Homo sapiens: one gene and its partners. The protein of the gene in region 4 interacts with the protein of the main gene of each other region in a biochemical or structural test. Each region holds a gene or a part of one and is shown on either strand. Other genes may lie near its edges. The genes, in order: CAPN1, CAPN2, CAPNS1 and KCTD7.

The links.
Region 1: of the proteins of KCTD7 (region 4) and CAPN1, one has a biochemical effect on the other in vitro, tested with the Homo sapiens proteins (one study listed by BioGRID).
Region 2: of the proteins of KCTD7 (region 4) and CAPN2, one has a biochemical effect on the other in vitro, tested with the Homo sapiens proteins (one study listed by BioGRID).
Region 3: of the proteins of KCTD7 (region 4) and CAPNS1, one has a biochemical effect on the other in vitro, tested with the Homo sapiens proteins (one study listed by BioGRID).

What each region holds. Positions count from the first base shown.
Region 1 is NC_000011.10:65,205,915-65,212,524, forward strand, and holds the end of CAPN1 (calpain-1 catalytic subunit), read left to right. Parts: intron 1-548; coding exon 549-760; intron 761-865; coding exon 866-905; intron 906-2,140; coding exon 2,141-2,206; intron 2,207-2,290; coding exon 2,291-2,348; intron 2,349-3,408; coding exon 3,409-3,473; intron 3,474-3,934; coding exon 3,935-4,003; intron 4,004-4,103; coding exon 4,104-4,182; intron 4,183-4,421; coding exon 4,422-4,538; intron 4,539-4,899; coding exon 4,900-4,958; intron 4,959-5,345; coding exon 5,346-5,372; 3' UTR 5,373-6,092; downstream 6,093-6,610. UniProt on the Homo sapiens protein: Calcium-regulated non-lysosomal thiol-protease which catalyzes limited proteolysis of substrates involved in cytoskeletal remodeling and signal transduction. Proteolytically cleaves CTBP1 at 'Asn-375', 'Gly-387' and 'His-409'.
Region 2 is NC_000001.11:223,771,522-223,776,532, reverse strand, and holds the end of CAPN2 (calpain-2 catalytic subunit), read right to left. Parts: intron 4,725-5,011; coding exon 4,608-4,724; intron 4,353-4,607; coding exon 4,294-4,352; intron 3,823-4,293; exon of another isoform or gene 3,447-3,822; intron 2,266-3,446; exon of another isoform or gene 1,700-2,265; coding exon 1,676-1,699; 3' UTR 515-1,675; downstream 1-514. UniProt on the Homo sapiens protein: Calcium-regulated non-lysosomal thiol-protease which catalyzes limited proteolysis of substrates involved in cytoskeletal remodeling and signal transduction. Proteolytically cleaves MYOC at 'Arg-226'.
Region 3 is NC_000019.10:36,143,057-36,150,087, reverse strand, and holds part of CAPNS1 (calpain small subunit 1), read right to left. Parts: intron 7,025-7,031; coding exon 6,960-7,024; intron 4,283-6,959; coding exon 4,214-4,282; intron 4,113-4,213; coding exon 4,034-4,112; intron 3,893-4,033; coding exon 3,776-3,892; intron 511-3,775; coding exon 452-510; coding exon of another isoform or gene 276-451; coding exon 249-275; 3' UTR 1-248. UniProt on the Homo sapiens protein: Regulatory subunit of the calcium-regulated non-lysosomal thiol-protease which catalyzes limited proteolysis of substrates involved in cytoskeletal remodeling and signal transduction. Essential for embryonic development.
Region 4 is NC_000007.14:66,631,850-66,638,880, forward strand, and holds part of KCTD7 (BTB/POZ domain-containing protein KCTD7), read left to right. Parts: intron 1-1,425; coding exon 1,426-1,595; intron 1,596-6,403; coding exon 6,404-6,582; intron 6,583-7,006; coding exon 7,007-7,031. UniProt on the Homo sapiens protein: May be involved in the control of excitability of cortical neurons.

The DNA of each region.
Region 1 (6,610 bases), on a different chromosome or scaffold from region 4:
GTGAGGGAGCTGGATTTGAGCCCTGGTCCTCAGAGCCCCTGTCTGACATGTACACATGAGGCTTTTCCTGCCTTGCCATCTACACCAAGTAAGTGCCAACTAGGGCGGTCCAGCAATGTCAGGAGCAGGGCATTAGACAGGCTGAGAGTTCTGTACCCTTGAGCAGTTGCTTAAGCTCCGAGCCTGTGTTTGTGTCTGTAAAATGGGTGTAACAGCAGAACAGCAAATGAGGTGCCGAGTACCCTGCAGTACCTGACCTGGGGAAAGCTCCCAGTGATAATAATGACAGTGTTATTGAAACACATGCCTAATCTGCAATCCGGTGCTCCTCTCCTCTACCCTCTGCAGTGAGTAGGGTTGTTACATTTTACAGATGAGGAAACTGAGGCAAAATGTCTTGTTAGGGTCACACAGGCTGTGAGTGAGCCATGCCCCAGCTCTCCAGCCCCTTGGCCAGGACAAGGAGCCTGGAGTCTGGGTCTGGGGGTGGCCCCTGAGGGTGGGCTGAGTGGGCAGCTGCAGCCCTGCTCCCTCCTCCCTCCCACCAGCTGGTGGGCCAGCCGGCCGTACACTTGAAGCGTGACTTCTTCCTGGCCAATGCGTCTCGGGCGCGCTCAGAGCAGTTCATCAACCTGCGAGAGGTCAGCACCCGCTTCCGCCTGCCACCCGGGGAGTATGTGGTGGTGCCCTCCACCTTCGAGCCCAACAAGGAGGGCGACTTCGTGCTGCGCTTCTTCTCAGAGAAGAGTGCTGGGACTGTGTGAGTCATGGACTGGCCCCTGCCACTCTCCCCTCTCCCAGCCTCCCCTCTCAGGCCCTCTGCTGTCCCCCTCTGACTGGCTCCTTTCCTCCCCACTCTCTGCAGGGAGCTGGATGACCAGATCCAGGCCAATCTCCCCGATGAGGTGCGTGGTCCCACCCCACCAGGCCCCGTCCTCCTCTCTTCCTCACCCCTGGGTGTGTGATGGGGACCCAGGTGTCCTGTCCCCTGAGTTCCTGCTAACAGGGAAGATCCCCTCCTGGTGGAAGCCATAGGAGTAGTGCTAATCCCTCATCCGCCCAGCACTTTACAGTTTGCAGAGGACCTGTGATACTAATGGCACAGGCCCTGAGCTCTCACCCGGTGGCGGGTTTGTGCTGAGCACTTCACCTGTGTTACCTCATTTCCTCCCCACATCAACCCTGTCCGGGTCTTGTTACCATACCTCCTCTGAATGGGAAATTCAGGTTCACAGAGGTTAGGGAACTTGCCTGAGGCCATACAGTAGGGATCCAAACTCTTGCCTTTTTTTTTTTTTTTTTTTTGAGAGAGTCTCACTCTGTCACCCAGGCTGGAGTGCAATGGCGTGATCTCGGCTCACTGCAACCTCCGTCTCCTGGGTTCAGGTGATTCTCCTGCCTCAGCCTCCTGAGTAGCTGGGATTACAGGCGCACGTTACCACACCTGGCTAATTTTTGTATTTTTAGTAGAGACGGGGTTTTGCCATTTTGGTCAGGCTGGTTTCAAACTCCTGACTTCAAGTGATCCACCCACCTCGGCCTCACAAAGTGCTAGGATTACAGGTGTGAGCCACCGCACCTGGCCCAAACTCTTGCCTTTTACTCACTGAGCTGAACAGCATCCCCTTCATTTAGGTCACATGAGTGCTGGATATGGGGCGGGGCAGGGCAGGGCAGGAACGAGATTCCCTTTTCAGATTAGAAAAGTGAGACTCAAGCCGGGCTCAGTGGCTCACGCCTGTAATCCTAGCACTTTGGGAGGTTGAGGCGGGCGGATAACCTGAGGTCGGGAGTTTGAGACCAGCCTGGCCAACATGGCAAAACCCCGTCTCTACTAAAAATACAAAAATTAGCCGGGCATGGTGGTGGGCACCTTTAATCCCAGCTACTCAGGAGGCTGAGGCAGGGAGAATGGCTTGAGCCCGGGAGGCGGAGGTTGCAGTGAGCTGAGATCACGCCACTGTACTCCAGCCTGGGTGACAGAGTGAAACTCCATCTCAAAAAGAAAAGAAAAGAAAAGTGAGGCTCAGAGAAGCGAAGTGACTTGTAGCAGATATGTGACCTCAGCCCTCCCTCCAGCTGCCTCCACACGGGCAGGGCCGGGGCCTCTCTTACCTGCTTTCTCCCCTTCTCGGTCCAGCAAGTGCTCTCAGAAGAGGAGATTGACGAGAACTTCAAGGCCCTCTTCAGGCAGCTGGCAGGGGAGGTAGGTTGGGGCATGGCAGGTTGGGAGGGGCCTGTGAGGGGCAGCCCTCTCCTGGGGCAGGTGCCACCTCCTCTCTCTCCCCAGGACATGGAGATCAGCGTGAAGGAGTTGCGGACAATCCTCAATAGGATCATCAGCAAACGTGAGTCCCCGCGGGGCTGTCCCACCACCCCACCATTTCTTCCACATCAGAATCCAGGCTCCTGCTCACACATTGAGCTGAACCTCATCCCTTGGTCTGCATGAGTCGGGGAATCCTCCAGTTTTTCTGAGCCCAGTTCCCTGCCATTTCCATCCCATACTCCTCCTCCTGACCTGCCATCCTGATAATCCCTGTGCTCGGGTGCTGTGCCTTTGTGGGATTAGCAGCGCAGCCTGGCCAGGCACAGTGGCTCACACCTGTAGTCCCAACACTCTGGGAGGCCGAGGCAGGAGTCGCTTCAGCCCAGGAGTTCAACACCAGCCTGGACAATATGGAGAGACCCTGTCTCTGCAAAAAAGTACAAAAATTAGCTGGGCGTGGTGGCATGCACCTATAGTCCCAGCTACTCAGGAGGCTGAGTTGGGAGGATGGCTTGAGACCAGGGAGGTTAAGGCTGCAGTGAGCTGTGATCACATCAGTGCACTCCAGCCTGGGCAACAGAGCAAGACCCTGTCTCAAAAAAAAAAGCAGGAGCAGCACCTTAGTGCCAAAGAAAAGTCTACCTTTCCTCCCAGAGCCTCCTGGGCCAGGCTGAGTGGCTTGGGGAACACCACGTGACTGGCTTCACTCCCCAGGGCAGACAACTGCTGGCCTCTCATCCCCTCCCCTCCCCTTTGCTGCCACTGACCTCCATCCACACGGTTTCCTTAAGCAGAGCTTTTCTCCTCCTCTTCTCTGCTAGTGAAGCACTGCTTACCCTCCTAGCCTACAGCAAGCCCTGCCCTGCCCCATCTTTCTACCCAATTTCTCGCTCTTCTGTTTCACACTCATTTCTTTTTACTTTGGACTAATTGTGGCTGTTGGGACTTTGGCTTGATTGCTAAAATACTTTACTTGTACTTCCTGATGATACAAACAATCCTGCCCACTTCCTCTGCCAGATATTGCACCCACTCGTCAGGATTTGTGCGTCCTTGACTCTGCCCCACCCAGTGCTCCCAGCAGGGGCAGGTGCAGGAAGCTCACTAGGTGGAGATGTTGGAATTGGTTTTTCTTGCAGACAAAGACCTGCGGACCAAGGGCTTCAGCCTAGAGTCGTGCCGCAGCATGGTGAACCTCATGGATGTATCCTTCCGTTTGCTTTTGTCTCCTGAGTGGGGTTTTGGGTGGAGGTATCGGTGCTGGGAGAACTGTCCCAGGACAGCACAGAGAACAGGACAGAGCCATGCGGAGTGTGGACACACAGTGCCCCATGCTCAGATGTCTCCCTGGACGTCTTCCTGTTGGTTGGGAGGGAGAAACTGAGGCACAGACCTGTGTCAAGTGAAAGGTGGAGCAAGACCTGGGTCCCCATTGACCCTGAGGCTGGTGCTATTTCTGACCCCTCCCCAGCCCACTCCACTGCAGCCCAGCTCAGAGAATAAGGCAAGCCCGGCTGTGGGCTGACTGTACATGGCTTTTGCTGCTTCTCCTCACCCAGCCCCAAGTCGACTTGCCGGCTCGGCGGCCATCTCCCCTTCTGCACAGTTGCCCACTCTCCCATGACTGGTCTAAGTGATGGAATTTCCTTCTTAACGGCCACCCAGCGTGATGGCAATGGGAAGCTGGGCCTGGTGGAGTTCAACATCCTGTGGAACCGCATCCGGAATTACCTGGTAGGTTGTCCCCACTCACCTCAGTCATGCAGGTGCGGGCCGGGCAGGTGGGAAGGGCCGGGTGACTCAGCCTGGCCCTCACCCTCTGCCGCCACCTCAGTCCATCTTCCGGAAGTTTGACCTGGACAAGTCGGGCAGCATGAGTGCCTACGAGATGCGGATGGCCATTGAGTCGGCAGGTGAGACTCCAAGGCTGACGGCACCTGTGGGGCCCAGGACAGGTAGCCCCACTGCTCCTATGCCCCAGGCCCTTGTCCCTGGGGTGCTAGTGGTGACATGGTAACAGCCATCTTGTCCTTTTCCCCACGGTTACTAGCACCCTGCCTAGCCCCAGCCCCCTCCTGGGGACCCAACCCCTCCCCCATCCTGTTGGGCAGGGGCTGCGCCTCACTGACCTTCACTCACTCTCCTGGACCAGGCTTCAAGCTCAACAAGAAGCTGTACGAGCTCATCATCACCCGCTACTCGGAGCCCGACCTGGCGGTCGACTTTGACAATTTCGTTTGCTGCCTGGTGCGGCTAGAGACCATGTTCCGTGAGTGTCCCCAACTGCCTCCCACCCTCCAGCTCCGTCCCAAACGCGTCCCCCAGGAGCTGGGGGGAATGACAGATGGGTGAATTAGCAGATACAGGCCAGTGCTGTGGGTGTGTGCCAGAGAGGCCTGGGTCTGGGTTTGGGGGGCCCTGGCTGAGTGCCAGGAGAGTCGGGGAGGGAGGGAGTTGACAGTGGCTTCTCAGGCAGCAGGAAGGGGTGAAGCTTCCCAGCTTCAAGGGGTGTCAGCTTGCGGTACTGTGGGGAGGTAGAGAGGGACCAGGCAGGAAGGGGGCCAGGCCTGGCCCTGCGTGAATATCCCACTGAGTTTTCAGCCCTGTATCACCTTTTCTTGAACACACAGGATTTTTCAAAACTCTGGACACAGATCTGGATGGAGTTGTGACCTTTGACTTGTTTAAGGTGGGAACCTCCCTGGGCCCATGGTTGGGGAAGAGTTCCAGGCGATCGAATTTTCTTATCTGGCCAGTGTTCCCTGTCCTTTCCTGGAAATGAGCCTGGGCCTCAGAGCCAACCCTGAAGCCCGGGCCACCTGAATCCTGAAAGGCTGGGGTGGGGGTGTCTGGATTCTGGGAAAGGAGCAGGAGGGGAGGTCCAGGCCCTTGGAGGCCCCTATGGGAGCAGCACTCTGGTTTCCCAGGGGTGGAGGAGGTAAGAAAGTAACCCCTCCATGAGGTTCCTGAGGTGGCTCCTGAGACGTGGAGTTGGGGGCTGGACCTGGGGTTTGGGTGGGGAAGAAGCCAGGGAGCCATTTCTGCGGCCCCAGCTGACCTGCCTGTTCTCCCGCAGTGGTTGCAGCTGACCATGTTTGCATGAGGCAGGGACTCGGTCCCCCTTGCCGTGCTCCCCTCCCTCCTCGTCTGCCAAGCCTCGCCTCCTACCACACCACACCAGGCCACCCCAGCTGCAAGTGCCTTCCTTGGAGCAGAGAGGCAGCCTCGTCCTCCTGTCCCCTCTCCTCCCAGCCACCATCGTTCATCTGCTCCGGGCAGAACTGTGTGGCCCCTGCCTGTGCCAGCCATGGGCTCGGGATGGACTCCCTGGGCCCCACCCATTGCCAAGCCAGGAAGGCAGCTTTCGCTTGTTCCTGCCTCGGGACAGCCCCGGGTTTCCCCAGCATCCTGATGTGTCCCCTCTCCCCACTTCAGAGGCCACCCACTCAGCACCACCGGCCTGGCCTTGCCTGCAGACTATAAACTATAACCACTAGCTCGACACAGTCTGCAGTCCAGGCGTGTGGAGCCGCCTCCCGGCTCGGGGAGGCCCCGGGGCTGGGAACGCCTGTGCCTTCCTGCGCCGAAGCCAACGCCCCCTCTGTCCTTCCCTGGCCCTGCTGCCGACCAGGAGCTGCCCAGCCTGTGGGCGGTCGGCCTTCCCTCCTTCGCTCCTTTTTTATATTAGTGATTTTAAAGGGGACTCTTCAGGGACTTGTGTACTGGTTATGGGGGTGCCAGAGGCACTAGGCTTGGGGTGGGGAGGTCCCGTGTTCCATATAGAGGAACCCCAAATAATAAAAGGCCCCACATCTGTCTGTGATGTGTTTCTCCCCAGCCTACTGCCTGGAGGGCACCTGCAGGCCCCGGCCCATGGGGGCAGCTCGTGGCCTCAGCTCACCCCTCCCCTCCAACCCCTCCATCTCCTTCCCCTTGACCTTGAAGCTTGAACCCCTACTGGAGTACTGGGTATCTGGGCAAGACCACCCCTGGCCCTGGGAGGTTGGGAAGGAGGGGCCCTAGCTGCAGGGACAGGGCCACACAGCTGAGGTCCCACATGGCTCTGCTGATCCTACATGCCCTCCCCGCCGCCCAGGAGGCCTGACCCCTACCTTTCTTGCACACTTCGGCCCGTTGAGGTGAGGCTCTGGCTGAAATTCAAACCTCTACTTAGCACACACCCGGCCCCCCAGAGAGCTCCCCCGAGCACAGAGCCGCCTTCAGGTCCCTCTGTGGGGAGCCCCTGTGACCCAGACACCTGCACTTACATAAGCCGCTCCAGGGCCTGCTGGGATCTGGGATTTTCTTACCAGAGATAAGAGTGGTTTGGGGGAAGGAAGA
Region 2 (5,011 bases), on a different chromosome or scaffold from region 4:
TTCCCTTGTCCCCTGATCCTTCAGCTACCCTTCCCTTGCCCACCTCCAATCTTGAGTCAGTCCAAACATCTCCCACATCTTTCCTGCCACCTGTGCAGCTGGACAGAGAAATCACCGATGCGAGGAGGTTGGGACTCCTGCACTCTCATGGCCACCAGCCTCCCCTTTGCCCTCAAAATCCACTCAGCAAGCAAGAGAACTTCAACTCATTTGAGCCGAGTTTGGGAAATCCATTGTCTCACCTTGTTCAGGAAATATTAGGATGGCATTTGCCTATCATCTCAAGTCATCTTGAGGAAATGATTCATCAAGAACCACAAGCACCAGACCAGTGACTTCATCTGCATGTTTTCTCAGCTCCCTTGCTTGTACCTACCCCAGGAGGAGCTGGCCAAGGTCGAGCAGGGAACTTCCTGAGAGGCACATACGTCTCTGTGCTGCCTAACAGCAGATCAGCAAGCAGTAGAAATTAGAGCTTCCCTTATGTTATGGTCAGATTATCAAAGTTTCTGAATTGGATTTTAAAAAATTTTATAGTTCCACATTTTAATTATAGGCAAGGTGTCTTTTCCTTTGAATACATGAATTTACAGAGGCAGCATACCTTGTTAAAGTAGAAACAAGCTATAATTGTGTGCTCATAAACCGTCCTGTGGGGCTGCCCTCCAGGAAGGAAAACATGGCATGGTGTGATTGCATGGGGTAACCCTTTATTTTTATTTAACAGTACATTTGGAAGAAGATAAGGCAACAAGGCAAAATTTCTATAATGTTGCTAGCATTTTCCCAAGGTAAAGCCAGGAAACAAACTTGTGTCCTTTCTATAAGAACTTCTAAGTGATGTCCCCTCTAACTCCATGGACAGACACTAGTGGTGGTGAAGTTCATAAAGTTTTGAGGTGGCAAACAGCTTATTTTGTCCTTTATCATAATTGGTTTACAAATTGGATGCCTGGTTTTGGCATACTGGTTCAGTTGATCAAGCGCAGGATCCCTTTGGTCTTTGTAAGACCAGATGTATAAGGCCGAATAGGGTCAAGAACTTGATTGTAAGGAGAACGATTTACTATTACCAATCAATATTCTACAAAACCTGTCTCTTGTTTAACCCAAGCGACAGAGGTGAGTCTTCTCTCCTGGACTCTCCAGATGCCTTGACAAGATTACTTCATGATATACCATGTTTCCCAGTTGGCTCATGGGAAATGGTAATCTTGGACTGTTGTTTGGTAGAATCAACAGCTGCATTTTAAACTTGAAGTTGCTTTAAATATTCCCTGCCAAGGGCCTCGTGTCCTTTGAGAGCGACTCAATGTTTTTGCTCAGCTGTTAAATACCTCCCTGCATTTTTTTTTCCTGATTTAATATTGCTATGAACAGGAAAGTGTGTAAAAGTAAAAAGTGTATACTATTTACAGATTTAAAGCTTTCTTTGACCTTGTCAAGGGTTAAGCGACTCATTTGCATTTAGTATAATGATATGCAAATCTTTTACTTTGATGTGTGAAACTTCTGCTATCTCAAATTGACAGTATCATTATTTTCAGCTATGATCATCCGTTTAAGTAAATGTTCCCATAATTTTGAGGTCCAGATACAAAGTGTATTTCTATGGAAGCTTAGTCCTTGGCTGATTTTCCATCATGAGAAGTCTTCAGGCAGATTAGTTATAACTTCAAAGTACTGAGAAACAGAGCCACTGTGAGGAAGGAAAAAAAAAAGTCAGCTCAGTGACCACTTTTAAAATTAAAGGCTATTTAAGTACCTGTAGATTGTTCCAAAAAACTTGTACTGGAAAAGCTGATTGAGGGCTACAATATCAGTGCACTAACTCATATTTTTCTTACCTGATTTCTAGAGTCTAGCTTTTAACAGGTCAGTAGTCTGTGTGATTTGCATTAAGTGGCCATGAATCATATTACAGGGTTGATTGCACACATGAAAAGTGAAATTCACACAACAGAAATTAGCATTTTCACATCTCTGCCTCAGAGTATCACATCAGAAGTTAGTTTGGGATGTGGATATCCCTGCAACCAATGGTGTTCAGCATTGGTTCTAAGTTGTAGTGATACGGAAACTTTAAATCAGATTGATTCAACTGGTCTGGGATACAGACAGGACACCAGCACTTTGGCAAAGCTCCCCATGTGATGGAATCTGCAGCCAAGGTTGAAATCCCTGCAGACTGAACGGAGAGCTTCTGAACATGGCTCATCCTTGCAAAGACTACGAGAAGCGAGGATCTCCAGGAACCTGCAAAAGGTAAGGCTTAGGAGTGGCAGGAAAAGCCAGTGGGTAAGAAGATGCTTCTCGGAGGAGATGCGGAGGGAGTGGACTGAGCAGGCAGGCCAGGTGGACCCTGGAGTGGGGGTGGGTGGCTGGGGTAGAATAGGATATCCAGCAAGAATGACAGGCTAGGATTTCCAGAACTTAACATGTGGCATGTTTCGTGTCACAGTTGTGTTGACTCTACTATTTATTTCATTTTAAATTTTTTGAGACAGGGCCTTGCTCTGTCACCCAAGATGGAATGTAGTGGGGAGATCATGGCTCACTGCGGCCTTGACTTCTGGGCTCAGGTGTTCCTCCCACCTTAGCCTCCTGGGTAGCTGGGTCTACAGGCACGCACCACCATGCCTGGCTCATTTTTTTATTTTTTATTTATTTTTTTCTGAGACAGGGTTTTGCTCTTGTTGCCTAGGCTGGAGTGCAGTGGCACCATCTCAGTTCACTGCAACCTCTACCTCCTAGGTTCATGTGATTCTCCTGCCTCAGCCTCCAGAGTAACGTATTTACAGGCACCTGCCACCACGCCCAGCTAATTTTTTTTTTAGATGCAGTTTTGCTCTTGTTGCCCAGGCTGGATGGAGTACAATGGTGCAATCTCAGCTCGCCGCAACCTCCGCCTCCCGGGTTCAAGCAATCCTTTCGCTTCAGCCTCCCGAGTAGCTGGGATTAACAGGCATGTGTCACCACGCCTGGCTAATTTTGTATTTTTAGTAGAGATGGGGTTTCTCCATGTTACTCAGGCTGGTCTCGAACTCCCAACCTCAGGTGATTCGCCCGCCTTGGCCTCCCAAAGTGCTAGGATTATAGATGTGAGCCACCGCGCCCAGCCCTAATTTTTGTATTTTCAGTAGAGACGCGGTTTCACCATGTTGGCCAGGCTGGTCTTGAGCTCCTGACCTCAGGTGATCCACCTGCCTTGGCCTCCCAAAGTGATGGGATTACAGGCATGAACCACTGCGGCCAGCCTAATTTTTTATTTTTTTAGAGATGGGGTTGACTCTACATTGCAATCTAGGGGTAGAGATATTTCCTAGGATATGTAAAGTTTTAAGCAAGTTAGTGTTATTTGTAACCAGATAGACTATATTTTCACTTTGCTAATACAATGCATAATAGCAGAATGAGACAGTTATTTAGTTGCTGCCTTCCTCCAGAGTTCAAAATCCATGGAAAAGAGCTGCCAGTGCCTTAGACCTGCCCTCCTCACCACTTCACTCCTCTGTTACACGGACAGGACTGACAACTGCCATTCTCACCCAGTGTCAGCCACTTCGCCCGGCCCTCTGTGGCCTTCCCTGAGTATAGAGGAAATGCTGACTGGAGCCAGGTGATAATGGAAGTATACCCCACCTGGCTTCTTTCTTTCAGTGAGAGAACTTCCTGTCATTGGGATGACACGAGAACATTTTACGCTTTGCTTTTTGTGAAATTAGCATACCCACTTAATTCAGATTGATGATCATTTCAGAGATGTGTATTGCTAGGGTTCCAGACACATGAGTGCAATAACAATAATAAATGGCAAACGTATTTACTAGTATTGGTTTTATCTTAAACGGGGAGGGAGTAGAGAAAACTAATTTGCTTAAAGTATTTTAAGTAGATCCACTCTAAGAATGATGGATCTTCCCAAAACCCAACTTGAATTTCAGCTGAAGGATTTCTTTATATAAACATGTTCTCCCTTGCATGCTAATCAGGAGTTCATTTTTCTAAGCATGATCCTGCAGCCACTCCTTAGTTTAACCTTGAGCTACACTCAAGTCAAAGCTCATGAGAAGAGGGAGCCAGGCGTGCATTTTGGACTTGAGAATAGGTGGTTGGAAAACAACTGCAAGTAAAAGTGCATTGTGGGATCTTACAACCGGTTACAGGCCTGGCCCCGACAGACCAAGAGCTCTTTAAAGCAAAACTTGAAAAAGCAGATCACTCAAGTAACAGCCCTTTCCGCCCCATGCCTCCCCCATCCCCTTAGAAGCAAGGCGGGGCCTGCTGACTCACAGAGATAAGGTCGAGCTCTATTGTTCCAGTATTCTCGGGATCCAGCTGCTTAAATATCTCTGTGGAGGGAGAAAAAGAGGGTGTCACAAGTGAGTGAGCTGAAACAGATCACATTATCCTCTTTTCAGTTCAGCAACTGACTTCACTGACCACCATACATGCTTTCTTCCTCACCCTCAAATTAGTAAAGAGGGAATTTCATTCTCAACTCCTGGAAGACATGTCTCTAGTTTAGATGATTTCACCGAGGTGAAAGGCAGGCCACTTTAATACCAAGAGAACTGAAATGAGTCATTCCCCAAATATCCACTTACTGAATAGCGTTTCCAGCCGAACCAAACACCGAACAAAATTATCAAAATCGATGATGAGCTGGTCATCTGCAAACCGAGCAACGATGACTTGGTGGAGTTGACAGGGCATCTTGAAACCTGAAGTTACATGAACAAACAAACTCATTGCTAAGCATTAGATTGTTCCATTTAGCTGCGCTCACAGGCTATGAAACTAATGTGGTGATTTAAATGAGGTATAATTGCTTTTGTCCCTTGGCTGCTCTTCTGTGAGACTGGTTTGATTTTGCAAAGCCAGTACCTTCTGCTGTTTCTTTTGTTTTTGAACTGTCCACCTTCACCCTGCCTGTGTCCTTTGCTGACACATAAGTGTTTTCTTGCCTGTTTCTGTTCTCATGGTCACAGTTGCTTCATGTTGTTAACCA
Region 3 (7,031 bases), on a different chromosome or scaffold from region 4:
CCTGGTGGGAATGGGGAGACCCGTGGACAGAGCTTGTTAGAGTGTCCTAGAGCCAGGGGGAACTCCAGGCAGGGCAAATTGGGCCCTGGATGTTGAGAAGCTGGGTAACAAGTACTGAGAGAACAAAAGCTTGTGGGTCAGCAGGCCCCACAAAGATGTGACTGCAGACAGGATCGGCCCTGGGAGAGACCGAGGCTCCAGGTGACTCCTATAGCAAGGCAGTGAGGGGGCGGGTCTGGGGCTCCAGTTCAGGAATACATAGTCAGCTGCAGCCACTGGGGAGAGGAGGGTGGAGAGTGAGGACAGGGAACCCCAAGAGCACCAGCCCCTTTGCCCTCACCCAGGGACGGCTGGCAAAATAGGAGGAAGGGGACTGCAGCTCAGAGCTGGTATGAAGGGCTGAGGGGTGGGGTCCTCCCAGGCACCCATACCCCAATATGGGGGTCCTTACCTCCTGGATGTTCACCTGGATTTGTCCAGTGCCATCTTTGTCAAGAGATTTGAAGGCACCTGGAGGAGGAGATGCAGAGGTTTGGCGGCAGGGAAGGAAGGAGACTGGTTTTTGGCATAATAACATTACACAAATACATGGGATGACAATCATAGCAGCTGGCACTTCACTGAGTATTTACTGTGTGCCAAGCATGGGGTAAAGTGCTTTCCAGGTATTGGCTGATTTAATCCAACTCTGTGAGATAAGTGTCATTTTAAAATGAGGCACAGGCTGGGCGTGGTGGCTCACACCTATAATCCCAACACTTTGGAAGGCCAAGATGGGAGGATCACTTGAGCCGCCCAGGAGTTCGAGACCAACCTGGGCAACAGAGACCTCATCTCTGCTTTTTAAAAAAACTAAAAATTAAAAACAGGAAAAAAAGAAATGAGGCAGGAAGGGAGGGGCCATGCCCCAGGTCACATAGCAAGAAAGTGAAGAAATCAGGATTGGAATCCAATCTGTTACCCTCCTCAATAATGGCCTCTGTGTACTGATATCACCTCTGCCCAGCCCCAGCCTCCTACTGACATCTATGCTCCATCCTCTCCAGTTCTAAGCCTAACAGGCTACTAGAGGGAGGCTCTGCACACTCTACTTCCTGCCCCTAGAGTCTTACAGGTAGGTCCCCACGCCTGCCCTGAAACTTGACTCCATGTTCCCCACCCACAGGGAATCTAGACATGATGACTACACTATCTCCGCTCAGTTACCACCACCCTCAGGTGTCCATACCCACAGCGTCCTGCACACCCTGGCTGCCTTTCTTTCTTTTTTTTTTTGAGACAGAGTCCCACTCTGTTGCCCAGGCTGGAGTGCAGTGGCACGATCTTGGCTCACTGCAACCTTTGCCTCCCAGGTTCAAGTGATTCTCCTGCCTCAGCCTCCTGAGTAGCTGGGACTACAGGCGTGCACCACCACGCCTGGCTAATTTTTTTGTATTTTTAGTAGAGACGGGGTTTCACTATGTTGGCCAGGCTGGTCTCAAACTCCTGACATCAGGTGATCCGCCCACCTCGGCCTCCCAAAGTGCTGGGATTACAGGAGTGAGCCACCATGCCCAGCCCTTTTTTTTTTTTTTTTAGACGGTGTCTCTGTGGCCCAGGCTGGAGTCCAGTGGCAAGATCATAGCTCACTGCAGCCTCACCCTCCCGGGCTCAAGTGATTCTCCTACCTCAGCCTCCCGAGCAACTGAGACCACAGGCATGTGCCACCATGCCCGGCTATGTCTATATACATATATTTTTTTTTTTTTGTAGAGATGGAGTCCTACTACATTGCCCAGGCTGGTCTCAAACTCCTGGACTCAAATGATCCTCCCGACTATCAGCCTTCTTGCTGGTAGATCCAGTGGCTATTTCCTGGCCCCTCTTATGTGACTTGTGGCATCAACCTTGTCTGTCCACTCCCTTCACCTCCCTGCTATCTCACATACCTGCTTCTTTTCCTCTGTTACTTTTCATGCATTGTGGGCTCTCTGGAGGCCAAGGGATCTTTTTTTCTTTTTTTTTTTTTGAGATGGAATCTCGCTCTTGTCACCCAGGTTGGAGGCTGGAGTGCAATGGCATGACCTCTGCTCACTGCAACCTCCGCTTCCTGGGTTCAAGCAATTCTCCCTCCCTAAACCTCCTGAGTAGCTGGGACTACAGACACGCCCCCACGCCTGGCTAACTTTTGTATCGTTAGTAGATGCGGGGTTTCGCCATGTTGGCCAGGCTGGTCTTGAACTCCTGACCTCAGGTTTTACGCCCACCTCAGCCTCCCAGAGTGCTGGGATTACAGGCATAAGCCACTGCACCCGGCCTGGAGGCCAAGGGATTTTTTTTTTTTAAGACGGAGTCTCGATCTGTCACCCAGGCTGGAGTGCAGTGGCAGATCTCAGCTCACTGCAAGCTCCGCCTCCTGGGTTCATGCCATTCTCCCGCCTCAGCCTCCCAAGTAGCTGGGACTACAGGCGCCCGCCACCACACCTGGCTAATTTTTTGTATTTTTAGTAGAGATGGGGTTTCACTGTGTTAGCCAGGATGGTCTCGAACTCCTGACCTCGTGATCCGCCCTCCTCGGCCTCCCAAAGTGCTGGGATTACAGGCGTGAGCCACCGTGCCCAGCCGAGGCCAAGGGATCTTTCTAAAGCCAAACCTGACCCTGTCCTCCCTCTGCCTAGAACCTGCCATGGCTCCCCAATGTCTCTGGTAGAGTTTGAGCACCCCCAAACTTGGCACCCACAATCCTGCATGACCTAATCATGCTCACTGCTCCTACCTTCTCTTACTTAGCTCAGATCTCAGATAGATCCAAGTTCAAATTCTGGCTTTACAACTTCCTAGCTGGGTGACTATGAGCATGAAAATTTGCCTCCTTGAATCCTAAGTTCCTCCTTCACAAAATAAGGACAGTAATCCCCACTTCCCAGCCATGTCTTCAGCATTCAGTACACTAACACTCAGAAGGCCACATGCAATGGCTCATGCCTGTAACACCAAAGCTTTGGGAGGCTGAGGTAGGAGGATTGCTGGAGCCCAGGAGTTCAAGACCAGCCTGGGCAACATAGCAAGACCCTGTCTCTACAAAAAATTTTAAAAATTAGCCAGGCATGGCGGTGTGTGCCTGTACTCCCAGGTATTCGGTAAGCTGAGGCAGGAGGACTGCTGGAGCCTAGGAGTTGAGGCTGCAGTCAGCCATGATCATGCCACTGCACTCCAGCCTGGGCAACAAGAGCAGCAGACTCTGTCTCAAAAAAATAGAAAGAAAGAAATCTAACAAAAAGCATCAGAAGCCCCATCTTCTTTCCCTTCTAGGCCTTTGCACAGGCTGTTCCCTCAGCCTGCAACAGTATTCCCTACCTTCTCACTAAGTTCTCTCCTCATCCCCTCAGGTCTCAATGTTCCCTCTCCAGTGAGCCCTCCCTGACCCCTTGGGCTGCATCAGGTTCCTCCTGGATTGGATTTGCCCTCTAGGCTTCCCCAAGCACAATCTGAGCACGCTCTGCTCACTCTTCCCCTCACCAGAGCCCTAGACCCTCGGCCTGTGCTGCCCCCATCACAACCCATCACTCTGCCCTGAGCTTCCCCTCTCCCAGCCATCACCAGTCTGAACTGTCACTGTCTGGGGACTTGTGTCTCCTCCACCAGACTGTGAGCTCCATGAGGGCAGAAACTGGAACTGATTCAATCACCACTGTGCCCCTAGCATCGCCCACCTCAAAGTCAGGCTTAGAGGAGACCTTGGTCCATAGAGGTCATAGGAATCCCCACCCAGGAAGACAGCTGGGTTGTCACTCACGGAACATGGCGTCCAGCCTGACCAAGCAGCTGATGAAGTTGTCAAAATCCATGTTCCCACTTTCATCTGAGTAGCGTCGGATGATCATGTTATAGAGATGCTCATTCAGGTGGAACCCTAAGATGGATGTAGTCCTTCAGGTGCGGGGGCCACATGGCCCAACCCACTCCCATGCCCAGGAGTCAGGCCCAGACCAGCTGAGTAGAGGTTTTCTCACCCATCCCACTCCCAGCCCCAGCATGTCCCTGCCAGCCATACCTGCTGCCTCAAAGGCACCTGGGAGTTCACTACTGCAAATGGTCCCTGATCGGTCAGTGTCGAACTGTTTGTATATGGCCTGTGAGGACAGAGACATTGGGTCCAAGTGAGCATTGTGGGGCATAGTGTCTCCATGGCTTGGGGGTCTGGGTGCCAGGGATTTCAGAGGTTTCTACACACCTGCCACCTTTTGATGTTGTTCCACAAGTACTTGAATTCCTCAAAGCCCAGCTTGCCTGTGGTGTCGCTCTGGTGGGAGGGTGTTAAGAAGAGTGACAGCTACACCCAGATGCATGCATCACATGCACTGTGGACACGATGGTGATACAGCAAGCAGGGCAGCCAGGGCTGAAACTCCAGCTCCCGCTTGGTCCTAGTCATATCACCTGGTGTGCGGTTTTATTTTTCATTTTATCCATACATATTGTCACTTACATTTCTAAATAGGGATTCTCTTTAAACATAACCATGAGGAATTATATTCAACTACTCTAAAGTACAAATTCCTTGCCTGAAGAGTTGTTAATTGCTCATTCAGAAAATTCTTAATAGGCCACGCACGGTGGCTCCCGCCTGCAATCCAGCACTTTGGGAGGCCGAAGCAGGCGGTTCACTTGAGGTCAGGAGTTCGAGACCAGCCTGGCCAACATGATGAAATCCCGTCTCTACTAAAAATACAAAAATTGGCCAGCTGTAGTAGCGCACACCTGTAATCCCAGCTATTCAGGAGGCTGAGGGAGGAGAACTGCTTGAACCTAGGAGGTGGAGTTAGCAGTGAGCCAAGATGGCACCACCGCACTTCAGCCTGGGAAACAGAGTGAGACTCTGTCTCAAAAAAAAAAAAAAAAAAAGAGAAAGAAAAGAAAATTCTTGACAGTAACTCAATTTCATAAAAATGTTAGGATATGTGAAAAACAAGTGTGTGACCAGGCATGGTGGTTCATGCCTGTAATCCCAGCACTTTGGGAAGCCAAGGCAGGTGGATCGCTTGAACTCAGGATCCACCTGATGTCCACTCAGGAACATCACTTTCTCACTAAATCCTTGGGACACCAGTTCTACCAGGACTATTTCCAGAGAAGAAAACATTCAAAGCTGAAAACTCTACCCAAGATCATAGTTAAGAGCTAATGTGTACAGACCACATACTATGCGCTATACACTGTGCTAAACCTTTTGGATGTAGTTCCGATTCGGTATCACCATTATCACTCACCCATTTTACAGAGAGAGAAACTGAGGCACAGAGCGGTTCAATAACCTGGTTAAGAGGTAGAGTTGGGATTGCTTTGCTCTATGCAATATGTCTGTGATTACATGACATGTATATTATGTATGTGTCTGTTTGCCCTATGTGTTAAATGTGCATGAGGCCAGGCGCAGTGTCTCAAGCTTGTAATCCCAACACTTTGGGAGGCCAAGGCGGAAGGATTGCTTAAGGTCTGGAGTTTGAGACTTGCCAGGTCAATATAGTGAAAGCTTTTCTCTATAAAATATTTTTTAAAACAAAAATAAATAAAAATATGCATGTATCCAAGATCAGCTAATGGCTGGCCCATGTACAGATAACACGTGTGTCCCTGTGCACACTGCCTCATACACCTTCACGTATGTGGGTGTGCTCTTAGGTGTGTGTGTGTGTATATGCGCATGTGGCTGTTATAAACGTGGGTTCTCAAGCCCAAAAGACCTGAGTCCACAGACTGGAGTGCAGTGACGAAACCTCTGCTCACTGCAACCTCCGCCTCCCGGGTTCAAGCAATTCTCCTGCTTGAGTAGCTGGGACTCCCGAGTAGCTGGGACTACAGGCGTGCACCACCACGCCCAGCTAATTTTTGTTATTGTTATTTTTCTTTTTTTTTCTTTTTTTTTTTTTTTGAGACGGAGTCTCTCTCTGTCGCCTAGGCTGGAGTGCAGTGGCGCGATCTCGGCTCACTGCAAAGCTCCGCCTCCCAGGTTCACGCCATTCTCCTGCCTCAGCCTCCCGAGTAGCTGGGACTACAGGCGCTCACCACTGCACCCGGCTAATTTTTTTGTATTTTTAGTAGAGACAGGGTTTCACCGTGTTAGCCAGGATGGTCTCGATCTCCTGACCTCGTGATCCGCCCGCCTCGGCCTCCCAAAGTGCTGGGATTACAGGCGTGAGCCACGGCGCCCGGCCTATTTTTATTTTTATTTTTATTTTATTTTTTGAGACAGAGTCTGGCTCTGTCGCCCAGGCTGGAGTGCAGTGGCGCGATCTCGGCTCACTGCAAGCTCCTCCTCTCGGGTTCACGCCATTCTCCTGCTTCAGCCTCCCGAATAGCTGGGACTACAGGCGCCCGCCACTACGCCCGGCTAATTTTTTTTTTTTTTTTGGTAGAGACAGGGTTTCACTGTGTTAGCCAGGATGGTCTCAATCTCCTGATCTCGTGATCCGCCCGCCTCGGCCTCCCAAAGTGCTGGGATTACAGGTGTGAGCCACCGTGCCTGGCCAATTTTTGTATTTTTAATAGAGATGGGGTTTCACCATGTTGGCCAGGCTGGTCTCAAACTCCTGACCTCAGGTGATCTGCCCACCTTAGCCTCCCAAAGTGTTGGGATTACAGGCATGAGCCACCATGCCTGACCTTTATCTATAACTTGAGACAAATGACTGCTTCTTTCAGGAAACTGAGCCTCAGTTTCCTCTTCTGTAAAATGGAATATAATAATTGTGCCTGTCCAACAGGGTGGTTATGACGGTTCGGTCACTTTATATAATTAAAGTGCCAGCTGTGACAGCTGGCATTGTTATGATTTACCGCCACATGTCTGCAGGTGACTGTGTTCTGATGAATGCATTTCCACATCTGTGGATATGAAAGCTACATGTTGGCTTCCCAAACATACTCTCAAAAAACTCTCTGTCCACCCAGGGCCTCTCCCACACTGCCCCCAAGGATACATCCATCACGGCCACCATGCTGCGACATGTGTCAATGCCAAAACCATCAGTCTTCAGATCAGGGTCTGTGGG
Region 4 (7,031 bases):
AGGAGTAGATGCCTGGAAGTATTCAACACACAACTACTGAGCTCTGCTGTGGGCAGCCCATGATTGGTGACCAAGATGCTTTCCCTGTCTTTGGGAAGCTTGGGGTCTAGTGGAGTGAATTGACAGAGGGAAATAATTGGCGATGTATCGTGCTAGGTGCTATTATAGAGGAGAATATGACACACGGTGAAGGCACAGTCGAAGAATGTGTCATTAACTCTGTCCTAGGGGCAGGTGAGGGACAGTAGACAGAAATGCTCACAGATGAGGGGAACTTGAATAGAAATTTCTAGAATGAGTAGATGCCACTAAACTGTATGGTGTGTTGGTGTGAATTAGAAAAAGGGCACATAGCAGGCCGGGCGTGGTGGCTCACGCCGGTAATCCCAGCACTTGGGGAGGCCAAGGCGGGCGGATCATGAGGTCAGGAGATCGAGACAATCCTGGCTAACACGGTGAAACCCTATCTCTACTAAAAATACAAAAAATTAGCCAGTCGTGGTGGCAGGCACCTGTAGTCCCAGCTACTCGGGAGGCTGAGGCAGGAGAATGGTGTGAACCCGAGAGGCGGAGGTTGCAGTGAGCCGAGATCGCGCCACTGAACTCCAGCCTGGGTGACACAGGCTGGGACTCCGTCTCAAAAAAAAAAAAAAAAAGAAAAAGGGCACATAGCAGATGACTCTCATCCAGGTGCTTTTATGCAGTGAACAACCTATAACACTGTATGGGTCCATTTAACTTGCCATATAGACAGAAGAAGGAGACTGGTAAGAGCATTTTGGGCAAAGAAGACAATGTGAGCAAGAGCACTAAGATAGTAAATTCAGGAAGTGAAAGGACACTGAAGGCTTGAGCTCTAGAGCAGCGATAATGGAGTTGAGGTGGAGAGACCTGATTTAAAAGCTATCAGGGGGCCAGGCACAGTGGCTCATGCCTGTAATCCCAGCACTTTGGGAGGCCGAGGCAGGTGGATCATGAGGTCAGGAGATCGAGACCATCCTGGCTAACGCAGTGAAACCCCATCTCTACTAAAAAAATATATATATATATACAAAAAATTAGCCGGGTGTGGTGGAGGGCGCCTGTAGTCCCAGCTACTCCGGGAGGCTGAGGCAGGAGAATGGCGTGAACCCGGGAGGCGGAGCTTGCAGTGAGCCAACATCACGCCACTGCACTCCAGCCTGGGAGATGAGTGAAACTCCATCTCAAAAAAAAAAGAGCTATGAGGGTTAGAATGGGTAGGACTTGGCAGATGATGAGGGTGGGGCAGAGGGAGGAGAGAGAAGAAAGTGTTCAGATGGACCCGTGGGCTTGAGTGACTGAATGAATGGTGTGGCACCAATCAGACCCCAGGGATTGAAGATGGAGCAGCCCCAGCTCTCATTCCCCGTTGCCTGCCTGAGAGCCCTGGTGATTTCTTTCCAGTTTCCTGAGGTTGTTCCCCTTAACATCGGAGGGGCTCACTTCACTACACGCCTGTCCACACTGCGGTGCTACGAAGACACCATGTTGGCAGCCATGTTCAGTGGGCGGCACTACATCCCCACGGACTCCGAGGGCCGGTACTTCATCGACCGAGATGGCACACACTTTGGGTATGTCTCTCCCTCTACAATCAACTTTGTAGTCCTAGCAGGTGATTAGCGTAGGCTTGAGTATGGGACCTTGATATCTTCCATAGTACCTAGAAGAGGAGATAGCATATTGATGAAATTTAATAAATGGGTTTATTGAAAGAGATCAATTTTTTTTTTTTTTTTTGCCAAAGGAGACAAAGACAGCCAGAGAAATTCGAAATAACACACTGGCTGGATGAAATTGCTTCAATCATAGACAATTAAACAATTTTTATTTTCAGCTCTGCGCGGTGCTCATGCCTGTAATCCCAGCACTTTGGGAGGCTGAGGCAGGTAGATCACTTGAGGCCAGGAGTTCCAGACCAGCTCATTACAGCATGGTGAAACCCCATCTCTACTAAAAATACAAAAATTAGCTGGGTGTGGTGGCTCATACCTGCAATCCCAGCTACTCAGGAAGCTGAGGTCGAAGAATCGCTTGAACCCAGGAGGCAGAGGTTGCAGTGACCCGAGATCACGCCTCTGCGCTCCAGCCTGGGCGACACGAGATTCCATCTCAAAAAACAAAACAAAATTTCATTTTTATTTATTTATTATTTATTTATTTATCTCATTATACACCCACACACACAGATGTACACATACATGCACACATATATATATATGTATATATGGGTGTGTGTATACATATATATATATATATATATATATGTATATATATGAGCTCTGATGCACTGAGGCTTCCACTGGTCTTGATGTGTGTGATTCTATCTATCTATCTATCTATCTATCTATCTATCTATAAAAATAAAGATAGGATCTTGCTGTGTTGCCCAGACTGGTCTCAAGCTCCTGGCCTTAGGCAGTCCTCCCACCTTGGCCTCCTAAAATGCTGGTATTACAGTATTTATTTAAGTTTTAGGTGTTGTTTTTTTTTCGGGGGCTGTTTTTTTGGAGATAGGGTCTTGCTATGTTGCCCAGGGTGGAATGTAGTGGTTGTTCACCAGTGCCATCATAGCTCACTGCATCCTTAAACTCCTGGCTCAAGCAGTCTTCTCCCTTCAGCCTCCTGAATAGCTGAGACTACAGGTGTGCGCCACTGCACCTGGCTGTCCTATGCAATATGAGACCAGGAAGTTGTCATCTGTGTGGAGAGGAATAAGTGTAATCCCACATAGGGGGATAGTCTAAAACAACATGGAGAGTACCTTTAGACCTGGATTTTGGGGCTCAGCGTTGCCATGGGAAGGAGGCATGGTGTGTAGCAGTGGTTACCAGACTTCTTTCAGTAGTTTAAAGGAATAAAAAGAGATGGAAGACTGATACAGTGTTGTTCTTTAATTTTGCCAAGGAAAGTCTTTAAAAAAAAAAAAACCCTCTGTTGTTCTTGTCACTTAACACTAAAATGTGGAAAAACACAATGTCAACAACAGCAAAATAGCAGCCAGGCGTGGTGGTACTTGCCTGTAGTCACAGCTACTTGTGAGGCCGAGGTGGGAGGATTGGTTGAGCTCAGGAGTTGGAGTCTGCAGTGAGCCATGATCCTACCACTGTGCTCCAGCCAGGGCAACAGAGTGAGACTGTCTTTTTTTTTTTTTTTTTTTTGAGTCAGCGTCTTGCTCTGTTGCCCAAGCTGAGTGCAGTGATGCAAGCACAGCTCACTACAGCCTTGACCTCCCAGGTGCAAGCAATTTTGCTGCCTCAGTTTCCCAAGTAGCTGGGACTAGAGGTGCACACCACCACGCCTGGCTAATTTTTGATGTTTTTTAGAGATGAGGTTTCACTATGTTGGCCAGGATGTTCTCGAACACCTGGACTCAAGTGATCCTCCTGCCTCAGACTGCCAAAGTGCTGGGATTACAGGCCCAGCCTGTAGTTTGTGTCCGGCCCGGCCGAGACTCTGTGTCTTAAAAAAGAAAACAAAACCTTTCCCAAGAAAGGACTTCTGACAGTCTTACATGTAAACAATTTAAAGACTTTATGTCTCAGGGGTTCCATGTTTGTGAAATGAGAAATAATTATAGCTGCTGCACAGGCTTGTCAAAGAGGATTATATAAAGAGCCTTGGTGTGACCCCTAGCCATGTCCTTTTCAGAGTACGTGGCTGGAACTCTTAGCTCCTTCAGTCTGACATTGGAGATGACTAGAGACCTTGAACCAAGTGCCCAGGAGGCAGAAACTCTCCAACCACTACATCTCTGTGCTGGCCTCCAAGAAGGATTGCCCACATTGTGGGAAAGATCATTTTTATTCTCAGAAAGGAGCCCCTGGTCAAATAACTTGCTTGGAAGCATCTGGGTTTCCCCAGTGGGCTATCAGCTGCCTCCAATGCTGAGAAAACAAAGTGTCACATCGCTCTGCAGAACTATAAAAAGATGTTTGTTTGCGGGCTGTTTGGGGAAGGAAAGTGCCGGCCCCAGCTAGCAGCTCCCACAGCACCCTTAGCTGGGCCTTGCCCCAGGGTTTTGTTTTTCAGAGCTCACCAAGGTTTGCTGAAGATCTAGAAGGGATTTTGGGGAGGGGTTCTGGGTTTGACTTGAGGTGGATGTGCCCATGCTCAGGTGGCCACAGCTAGAGAGTGACAGCGCCAGGCAAGGGCATGGCAGAAAGCAGGAGATGGCGACATTCTTACTTTGGCTGATGAGCTCCTGTGACCTATGATTCATCAGCAGCAGATGAAGTTGTTGAATGACTCAGATAAAATAGGCGGTTCAGGGCATTTCGTAGGGTGCATTTCTTACTATACAGCTTATGTATCCCTAGCGTCCACCGTGAAGGCTGCTTGGGCCTCAGTCTGGGGTCGTTCCCCATTGTCATCAGCTTGCTGCACTCTGGTCTAAATGTTTCTGCTGAAGCTGGACCATGGTAGATGTGGGTGTAGAATCAGCCATGGCTGGATCTGAGCCTCTGGCAGCGGTGGCTACTTGAGCAAGCATGTTCCTGAACCTGTCTGGGCCCCACTTGAGCCTCATTTATGACATAGAGATAAGATAGCACACACCCCCAATGTCATTGAGAGGATTACATGGGATAACCCATGAATAGTGGCTGGCATGGAGTAATACTTAGCGAGTGTTAGCTGGTGTTGTATTAGGTCATAGACTAAGCTGTTATTGAGGTAGCAGCATTATCTTGGGGTTTACTCACTGTCTTCCGCACGTACGGGTGATGTATCTGATTACTCTGAGCACTAAATAATCTAAAAAGCTGGTGGCTTGCACCTATGGTCCCAGTTATTCGGGAGGCTGAGGCAAGAGGACTGCTTGAGCCCAGGAGTTAGAGGCTGCAGTGAGCTATGATTGCACCACTGCCCTCCAGCCTGGGTGACAGAACAAGATCCTATCTCTTAAAAAAGAAGAAAAAAAATCTGAAAAGTGAATTAGAAGGACTGAATTTTTATTTTAAGAAAATGCAATATGTGATTTTATTCAGCCCTGAAACCAGTTTGTTCAGACATTAGAGTTAGGCATTTTACCTGCTCTGCATAGCTACAGAATAATACTAGTGGCAAGGATGGGGAACACCTAGAACTCTTCTGCATTGCTGTTGGGAATGTAAAATGCTGCAACCACTTTGTTAACCACGTGCTTACCCTATGACTGAATGACTCTACTGCTAATACTTAAAAGAAATTTGTGCTTGTGTCCACTAAAGGTTTCTTTTGTTTGTTTGTTTTTGTGATGGAGTCTCACACTGTCACCCAGACTGGAGTGCAGTGGCGTGATCTTAGCTCACTGCAACCTCCACTTCCCAGGTTGAAGCAGTTCCCCTGCCTCAGCCTCCAGAGTAGCTGGGATTACAGACACCCACCACCATACCTGGCTAATTTTTGTATTTTTAGTAGAGATGGAGTTTCACCGTTTTGGCCAGGCTGGTCTTAAACTCCTGAGCTCAGATGATCCACCCACCTCGGCCTCCCAAAGTGCTGGGATCACACGTGTGAGCCACCGTGCCTGGCCTAAAGGTCTTATATAGGAATGTTCATCCCAGCTTTACTCATAATAGCCAAAAACTGGAAACAACCCAAATGTCCATCAACAAGACAACAGGGTAAATAAATTACACCATATTCATGCAAGGGTATACTTACATAATGAATAATAACTAATAAAAACAAAAAAACAAACTACTGGTTTGTTTTTATTATTTATTTGGTGGATACATTTCAAAAACATTATGTTAAAGGAAAGAAGCCAGGTATGAAAGAGAACATACTATATAATTCTGTTTATATATATATTTCAAGAAAAGGCAAAACTCATCTTTACTGATGGAAGGAGAAGTTAGAGTGGTTGCTTCCGTAGGGATTAACTGGGAAGTGGCATGAGGAACCTTAAGGAATGGAAATGTTTCATCTTGATCTAGGTGATGGTTGGATGGGTATATTCATACTTAAAAAAACAACTGAACTGTACAGTTAATATTTGTACATTTATTGAATATTTCACCTCAATTCTAAAACTATATATATATAAAGGGCTAGGTGTCATATCTTTCCATTATACTTACATATACCTAATAATACCTAATATTATACCTAATAATAGTAATTATAGTTGCTTACTGATAACAACAACTAATAACACTTATTGAGGCCCTACTCTGTGCCAGGGATTTTCTAATCACTTAATTCCCTAACACATTATGAGGTTTTATTGTTTTCTCCAATTTTACAGACAGGGAAACTGAGACATGGAGTAGTTAAGTTCATTTACCCAGTGTAACACAGCTGGCAGTCTGGTTTTAGATTTTGTCCAATGCACACTGTGTGGCACTGCCCAGGAGCATAAGCTCCTTGTCACCGACCCTCTTTCCTTCCTGCTTAGAGATGTGCTGAATTTCCTGCGCTCAGGGGACCTCCCACCCAGGGAGCGTGTTCGAGCTGTGTACAAAGAGGCCCAGTACTATGCCATCGGGCCCCTCCTGGAGCAGCTGGAGAACATGCAGCCACTGAAGGGCGAGAAGGTGCGCCAAGCGTTTCTGGGACTCATGCCCTATTACAAAGGTGAGGGTCAGCTGCCCAGGATGGTGGGTATGTGGGAGGAGGTCTGCAAGGCATCTGTGAGTGTTTAGGTCTCCATCAGAACACCGGGGGCAGCATTCATCCAGATTACTCAAGATGCGATGGAGTGTCATCCCTTCCCAGTCACGCTGGGGAGATTCAGGTTAAGGTGGGCCTACCTGGCCTATGACAGTTAGCAAATTGTATTTCAGAAGGACAGCCCTCGTCCCATTGGCTTCCCTTTGCTGTGGAGAACCGTGACCCTTGTTTAAGTTTGTGCCCTTCATTGGCCCCCTGAGTCCCTTCCCCGGGAAATCTGTCTTTCCCCTCCTGCATCCTGCCATCTTCAGGACTGTTTCTCTGTGCATCTCTGCTGCCCTGTCCTGCCTCTTCACCCTAGTGATAGGTGTTGTGTTCATCCTTATAGACCACTTGGAGCGGATTGTGGAGAT